2 linked regions of the Homo sapiens genome follow. The protein of the gene in region 2 purifies or fractionates together with the protein of the main gene of each other region. This does not show direct contact. Each region holds a gene or a part of one and is shown on either strand. Other genes may lie near its edges.

Region 1 (3,820 bases), on a different chromosome or scaffold from region 2:
AATACAAAAGTTAGCTGGGCATTGGTGGCAGGTGCCTGTAATTGCAGCTACTTGGGAGGCAGGGGCCAGGCGTGGTGGCTCATGCCTGTAATCCCAGCACTTTGAGGGGCCAAGGTGGGCAGATCACTTGAGGTCAGGAGTTCAAGACCAGCCTGGTCAGCATGGTGAAACCCTGTCTCTACTAAAAATAACAAAAATTAGCCGGGTGTGGTGGCAGGTGCCTGTAAGCACAAGCTACTCGGGGTGCTGAGGCAGAAGAATGGCTTGAACCTGGGAGGTGGAGGTTGCATTGAGCCGAGATCGTGCCACTGCACTCCAGCCTTTGGCTACAGAGTAAGACTCCATTTCAAAATAAAAGAAAAGGAAAAGAAGAAAACTAACAGAGGAACAGAAAACCAAATACCGTATGTTCTGACTTATAAGTGGGAGCCAAATGATGAAAACACATGGACACATAGAGGGGAAAAACACACACTAAAAGGAGGGAGAAGGAGAGGATCAGGAAAAATAAATAATGGGTACTAGGTTTAATACCTGGGTGATGAAATAATCCGTATATCAAACCCCCATGACTGAAGTTTATCTGTGTAACAAATCTGCACATGTACTCATGAACTTAAAAGTTAAAAAATAAGTCCAGGAAAAAAAAGAAAATGATGTAATTGGAATCCTGAAACTTTACAGGAGTGTCATCTGAATTTCATCTGATTTCCAAATTGTAAACTGCTGACCTGCAACCAAAGGCCACATGTTGTTCTGCCCTGATGACAGTTCAAAAGCTATGGCCATTTTATAAAAGAGGTTTATAGAGGCTTCTAAAATAGCTTTGACCTGAAGGAAGCGGAACTTTTGTGATCTCTCACTTTTTAAAGCAGGGATCAGCAAACTTTATGTGAAGAGAAAAATACTACATATTTAGATTTCACAGGCTGTATTTTTATCTCTACTGTGTAGCATGAAAGCAGCTACAGGAGATACATAAGTGAATGATCCTGGTTGCATACCGGTAAAACTTTATTTACAAAGATGAGTGGCAATGTGGGTATTTGCCCACAGGCAGTGGTTTGCCAGTTGTTGCTTTAGAGGAATGAAAGTATGGAATTAATTGTTTTAAAGAGTGTACATTGATACAGAATACATAAAGTAATATCTATATAAAAAGCTAAATTAAAATAATTAAAAGACTTGTTTTTTTCTAAGTTACTTAGTATATGTACAATAGTTTATAAGTTGTCTTTTATGTTTTACAGGCTTCACAGTTTGGCTTTTTAACTTTTGTGTTTTTTCAGAAAAAATCTTCTAGAGGAAATACTCAAGCAACTAGTCATTCTTTTGATGTCAGAGTGCTAACGCAGTTGGTAAATATTTTAAAATAACACTTAAAATATTTATTAGCATAACCATAATGAAACTGTTTCTGTTTTTATTTTTCTCATTAGAGAATAAAAGGATTTTAGAGCTGTAAGAGACTGTATGAAATGGCTGGTTATAGGAAGGTTATTCCCAAGAAACATCATTTTAATAAAACCTGTTTGGGTTTTTTGCCTCAAGGATATTAAAATTTTAACATCAATAGATAGCAGTTTAAAAAAATATGTACACATACATGCATACATATACATGTATGTATGTGTACATATTTTGGGTTGTAGCTTTTATAGTTAAAGTTGCAATTTTAACAACTTAAAAGATGTGTACACAGAGGTGCAAAGAGTTGTCATATGCTTATTTTGAAGTAGATTAATTAGATTTATACCCCCTGATTTGATAAAAATCACAAAGTATTAATTAGCAAGTTTTATATTTATGTATGGTTGCTTTAATTTACACGTCTTTTCGAAAATTTAAAAGTTGGATATCTTAAAGAATAAAAAGTTAAAGCCACTAATTATTCCTAAAAATACATACCTTTGATTTTAATCCTACTTGAAATTATCCTAAAGAACAGACAAGGGTATAAAATAGCAAACGCGTGTTTGTAGGAAACTTTATTTCAATATTATACTGGATTTTGAAACAGAAATACTCTCAGGACTTGTGTTTTTTTGAACTGAATAGAATAGAATTAAAAGCAATTTGGCATTTGAGGATGTTTTAGTTTCTTCTTTTTCTGTGTGTAGCAATAGCGCATTAGTAAATTGTCTTTGGGCCTATGCCACTCAATGTGAGTTCTCAATTTCATTTTTCAATACCTTAGAGGTATTTTAGTCTCTGATTTTCTACTTTGTCTTGATTTTAGAAGTGTCCTTTGTTTTGAGGCTGGCTATTCCACTACTTATGTGCTTTTCACTAGTTAGGCTTACTTCATGGTTTATTAAACAATTTGGTTAAGATTATTTTATTAGTAGTATAAAATTGTAGTTGGGAGATGTATAGAGTGTGGGAATATAGAGAGATGAGTGGAAGATAATCTCATGAGATAATTTATTGTAGTAGTAATATTATTGTTATTTTTGAGACGGAGTCTCGCTCTGTCTCCCAGGCTGGAGTGCAGTGGTGCGATCTCGGCTCACTGCAAGCTCTGCCTCCTGGGTTCACGCCATTCTCCTGCCTCAGCCTCCTGAGTAGCTGGGACTACAGGCGCCTGCCACCACACCTGGCTAATTTTTTGTATTTTTAGTAGAGACGGGTTTCACTGTGTTAGCCAGGGTGGTCTCAATCTCCTGACCATATGATCCGCCTGCCTCGGCCTCCCAAAGTGCTGGGATTACAGGCGTGAGCCACCGCGCCTGGCCAGGTGTAGTAATAATATTATATAGTATAATATATTTTTGGTAGTCACTCCACCGATCACCTAACTGGAAATTTTGAAGTGACTAATATACAGTAAGTAGTCAGTAAGTATTTATTGCCACTTTTCTCCCAGTTAAGTCTTATTGATTCCTTATTTGTAGTATTAAGCTTTTCTTTTATTTTCCATACAGTCCTGCTGTCATTAGCCTTACAACAGTATTATTTTACCTAAACTAGCACAAGTAGCCCTTAACTGGTCTCTCTTCATCTATACATTCTTGTCCAAAGTGATTGTTTCTCTAAATCCCTTCTACCTTTGTTAGTATATCTCTTGAAATACTTTCCATTTATCTACTCTATCCTGTTTATACACTCAGATGATCATTTCTGAATCATAGTTTATGTTCAGTTATTAATTTTTTTCAAGAAGTATTTATTGAGTTTGTACAACAGCCGGACACTGATTATGGTACTCCTTGCTCAAAATTTCTTAAGTGTTCTGTACTGACTAGTTAGAGAAGTCCAACTCAGGGTTCTTCATAGCCTCAGCATACCTTTTTGTTCTTATTTTCTACCTCTTATTTTCTAGATGTATGCTTGCCATACCTTTAAAGCTCTGTATTTCCTGAACTATGTATCATGTCTTTGCTCTTTTCTCTGTCACCCAAACTGTCAAAATCCTATCTGTACATTAAGATCTAGCCCAAATGCCACTACTTGTGTAAGATTTCATTTGGTTCCCATAGAAATGGGGATCTTCTCTTTTTCAAATGCCATGTCAGCATCATAGAAGTTCCCTCACCTATAGGCTGTTTGGCAGCCAGGTTATTCCTAAGTCCAAATAACCAAGAGGAGTTTACATTTGTAGACCCCAACTGGTCTACATTTCCACCTAAAAGGAATGAGTCAGACCTTACATTCTTTAAAACTTTTCCTGGCTGAGCATGGTAGCTCATGCCTGTAATCCCAGCACTTTGGGAGGCCTAGGCAGGGTGATCGCTTGAGCCTAGGAGTTCAAGATGAGTCTGAGCAACAAGTGAAACCCTGTCTCTACAAAAAAATACAAAAATTAGCTGGGGGTGATGGT
Region 2 (3,820 bases):
CCCGAGTCACTGGGACTACAGGCGCGTACCACCACAACTGGCTAATTTTGGGATTTTTAGTAAAGATGGGGTTTCACCATGTTGGCCAGGCTGGTCTCCACTCCTGGCCTCAGGTGATCCACTCACCTCGGCCTCTCAAAGTGCTGGGATTACCGGCATGAGCCGCTGTGTCTGGCCTCTATATTTAACATTTTTTTGAGTTAAAAAATTGAGGAAACATTTTACCAAAATTAGAAAAAAAAAGTGTTTTTTTTCATTTTTTTGTTTTTGTTTTTGTTTTGTTTTGTTTTGTTTTTGAGACGGAGTCTCACTCTGTCGCCCAGGCTGGAGTACAGTGGCGCAATATCGGCTCACTGCAACCTCCACCTCCCAGATTCAAGCAATTCTCCTGCCTCAGCCTCCCGAGTAGCTGGGATTACAGATGCGCACCACCACGCCCAGCTATTTTTGTATTTTTAGTAGAGACAGGGTTTCACCATGTTGGTCAGGCTGGTCTCAAACTCCTGACCTCATGATCCACCTGCCTCGGCCTCCCAAAGTGCTGGGATTACAGGCATGAGCCACCACGCCTGGCCAGAAAAAAATGTTTTTAAAGGATGCTGCCAGCAAGGGTTGCTTGTTCCTCCCGAGCCTGTTTCTCCTCTGCAGTTCTGAGCCCTGCGCCTGTTCCCACCCATCTTGGGGCAGTTACCCTTCCACAAGCTGACTCCCTCCAAGCTGTGAAGGGCCGGCCTGTGTGTGTTCCTAACTGCACTGCAGCTCCAGCCCCTAACATCCTGGAAGGATCATTTGGTCTTGAGGCCTCCAAGTCCTGCACAGCAAACCTGGACAGCAGCTAACCCTGGAGGAGATGCAGGTTAAATAAAAACATCTGCGAAAGCACCTGGCGGTGTGCTTGGCATCCCACAGTTCCTCAACCCCCAGTGGAATCTGATGGGAAGGACAGGATCCCTCTGGTCACCAGTAAATCCCTGGTTTTCTATGGGTGACCACTGAACCTGCGTCACAGATGAGGACACTGAGGCACAGAAAGGTGAAGTCATTGGCCTGAGATCACAGCAGTGGCACATGGTAGAGCTAGGACTTAAGCCCTGGCCGGCTGAGTTTTAAACCTGCCTCTTTATTCACTTGTTGTTATTCACTTACATATTTGGTAGAGAAACGAATGAAGGACTCATTACATCATTTAGGTTCTGGGTCCGGGTCCTAATTCTGGCGCAAACGTCCTTCCCCTCTCTGGGCCCCAGTGGTTTCATCTTTTGTGAGAGGGGACTGGGCTTGTTGCCCCTCGGCCGGGGTGGGGGTCGGGAGCCCCACCTGTCCAATGCTGGAGATGGGCCGGATCTTGTCGTGGGCGTTCTCCCTGCAGTGCTCCAGAGCGGCGGTGAAGGTGAGCTGCTGCTGCTGGAAGAGCTTGTACTTCTGCTCGATGCTGCGAAGGGATTCTTTCACCTCATTCATTGTCTTCCTCTGTGGTCATTTACAGGAGAAGAGGAATCTATGGGGAGACAGAGGATAGTGATGAGGTCCTGGGACCCAATGCTCGGATCCAGCTCCGGAGGGAAGGACTGTCAGGGGAGAGGGATACCCATGGCCCCTCTCACTGGAGCGCCTTGTGAGTGCCTCCCCACAGAAGAAAGCGAGGCCCTGGGAGGCTGCACACTTGTCCAGAGCCCCCAGGCTGTCCATGACAGAGCTGAGCCTGACCTCGAAATTTACCCTCCATGAACACATTCTTTGCCAGGAAATGTGACTTCTTCCCTCAGCTGTGGACAGAGTTTCTCTGGTTCTGTTTCTCCAGATGTGGGTATCTACACACACGCGCGCACACACACACGCACACACATGCATGTGCACACACATACAGGTACATGCATACACACACACACGCACGCGTGTACACACACGCCCTCCAATCCCTTGCTGTGGTGTCAGCAAAACCTGGGATCAAGGGATATGCCACAGGATATAAAACCAGGAGATGATCAGTTTGGATCAAATTATTGTAAAGCTGCTCTGCAACTGGTGGGAAAGTCTGGGAATTCCTTCCCATGGATTAAGCGGGGAGAAGAATCAATACTAGACTGTCTAGTTTGAGAAGATGTAAGTCTGCCTGCTCTGGGCTGGGGGCAGGAGCCTTGGTCTCAGGTTTGCGCATTCTCAGGGCAGGGCTGGTGGCTAGTGGACTGCCCCCTGACCCTGTTAATTGCTGGAATGCCATGATCAGTAACATGGAGGCTGTGGGGAGGACTCTCTCTTGGCGCCTCACAGACTGTCCCTGCTGTGATTTAGGTGCTCCACAGAGCATCTACAATCCTCCTGTGAGCAGAAAAGTCTGTGGGTGTGTGCTCCATGACATCACAGTTTTGCTGAGCGCGTGCAAAATGCTCCAGACCACAGATTTCTATTCATGTTAGAGCTGGAAGGGACTGAGAAAACCAGCTCCCTTGAGCTGCTATGGGGAAAGTGAGGCTCAGAGGGAAAGGTTTTGCCCAGGGTGTCACAGCAAATTTGTGCCCAAGACACCCTGGGTCCTAGGCTTCCTTACGTCTAACCAGCATCGTCAGTGCTGCCACACTCGGCTGCCCCTCCACTGCCTCCAGAACAAAGGCCAGGCTCGAACGTGTCACCACATGAGCAGGGGTCAGAGAAGGCTGTGCTGAGCTCAGGTCCAGTCCAAGGGAGATGTTGGAGATGGAAGGGGCCAGAACATTTAGCATGGACTGGGGCAGGGAAGGCACATTCCAAGCTTCCAAGCAGGTCCCAGGTGGATAGGAATAACAAGACGGGGCTGGGAAATATTTCTTTCTGCTGTGTCCAGAGCAGGGCTGGAGCTGGGGGTCCAGTTTGAACCCAGGAGGTCAAGGCTCCAGTGAGCCATGATCGCAGTACTGCACTCCAGCCTAGGACACAGGGAGACCCTGACTCAAAAAAAAAAAAAAAAAAGAGGCAGGGTAGGGGGAGCATCCCAGTTGATGCAAGAAGAGATGGCATCAGAGGAATGAAAGGAAACACAAGAACAGACCAGGAGATGGCCTCCGCGAGATGATGGGGGTGGTACATCAGAGCACTTGGAGGAGGCTGGGGAAGAGGCCCTTTAGCAAGATGGAGCCCAGCCATGGAGCCTCTATCCCTGGAGCCAAAAGCCAGCAAGGCTGCCTTAGAGGAGCCACCTTAAGAGCCACTGAGTGAGTCTCCTGGAAAGACAAGAGAGTATGCTTCTGCAGCAGAGCCACAGCACTGTGACTGTCAACAGACACAGGGACAGTCGCAGCTGCCCTGGGGGTGGGCCTGGGCCAGGGCAGGCAGGGCAGGGGCCTCTTTCCAGCTCAACCTCCTATGGAAAGGAGAGCTGAAGGTGGGGAATGAGATGGGGGGTCCATGGTTTATTGACACCTGCCATATCCTTGGCTGGTCCCTGCCACATGGAGCAGACATGCTGACTCACGCACAGTGGTTTCCTGTTGTGCCTCCCGTGGTGTCCGGCTCACCCAGGACCAACTAGGGTGAGGTGAGGGAGACACTTGCCCCCATGCAAAACTTAAGGAGGCGCCAAAAAACTCGGCAATCAAGATGAAAATAGGCCAGGCACAGTGGCTCATGCCTATAATCCCAGCACTTTGGGAGGCTGAGGCAGGAGGATCGCTTGAACCCAGGAGGTCAAGGCTGCAGTGAGCCATGATCGCAGTACTGCACTCCAACCTGGGTGACACAGTGAGACCCTGTCTCAAAAAAAAAAAAAAGCATCTTGAGTAGCTGGGATTACAGGTGGGTGCCACTACACCTGGCTATTTTTTGTATTTTTAGTAGAGATGGAATT

The links.
Region 1: the proteins of SPACA9 (region 2) and ODR4 purify together in Homo sapiens (affinity purification with mass spectrometry; one large-scale study listed by BioGRID and IntAct). This does not show direct contact.

Annotation. Positions count from the first base shown.
Region 1 is NC_000001.11:186,392,658-186,396,477, forward strand, and holds part of ODR4 (protein odr-4 homolog), read left to right. Parts: intron 1-1,289; coding exon 1,290-1,358; intron 1,359-3,820. UniProt on the Homo sapiens protein: May play a role in the trafficking of a subset of G-protein coupled receptors.
Region 2 is NC_000009.12:132,881,589-132,885,408, reverse strand, and holds part of SPACA9 (sperm acrosome-associated protein 9), read right to left. Parts: intron 1,499-3,820; 5' UTR 1,462-1,498; coding exon 1,318-1,461; intron 1-1,317. UniProt on the Homo sapiens protein: Microtubule inner protein (MIP) part of the dynein-decorated doublet microtubules (DMTs) of multiciliated respiratory cells and the distal singlet microtubules of monoflagellated spermatozoa.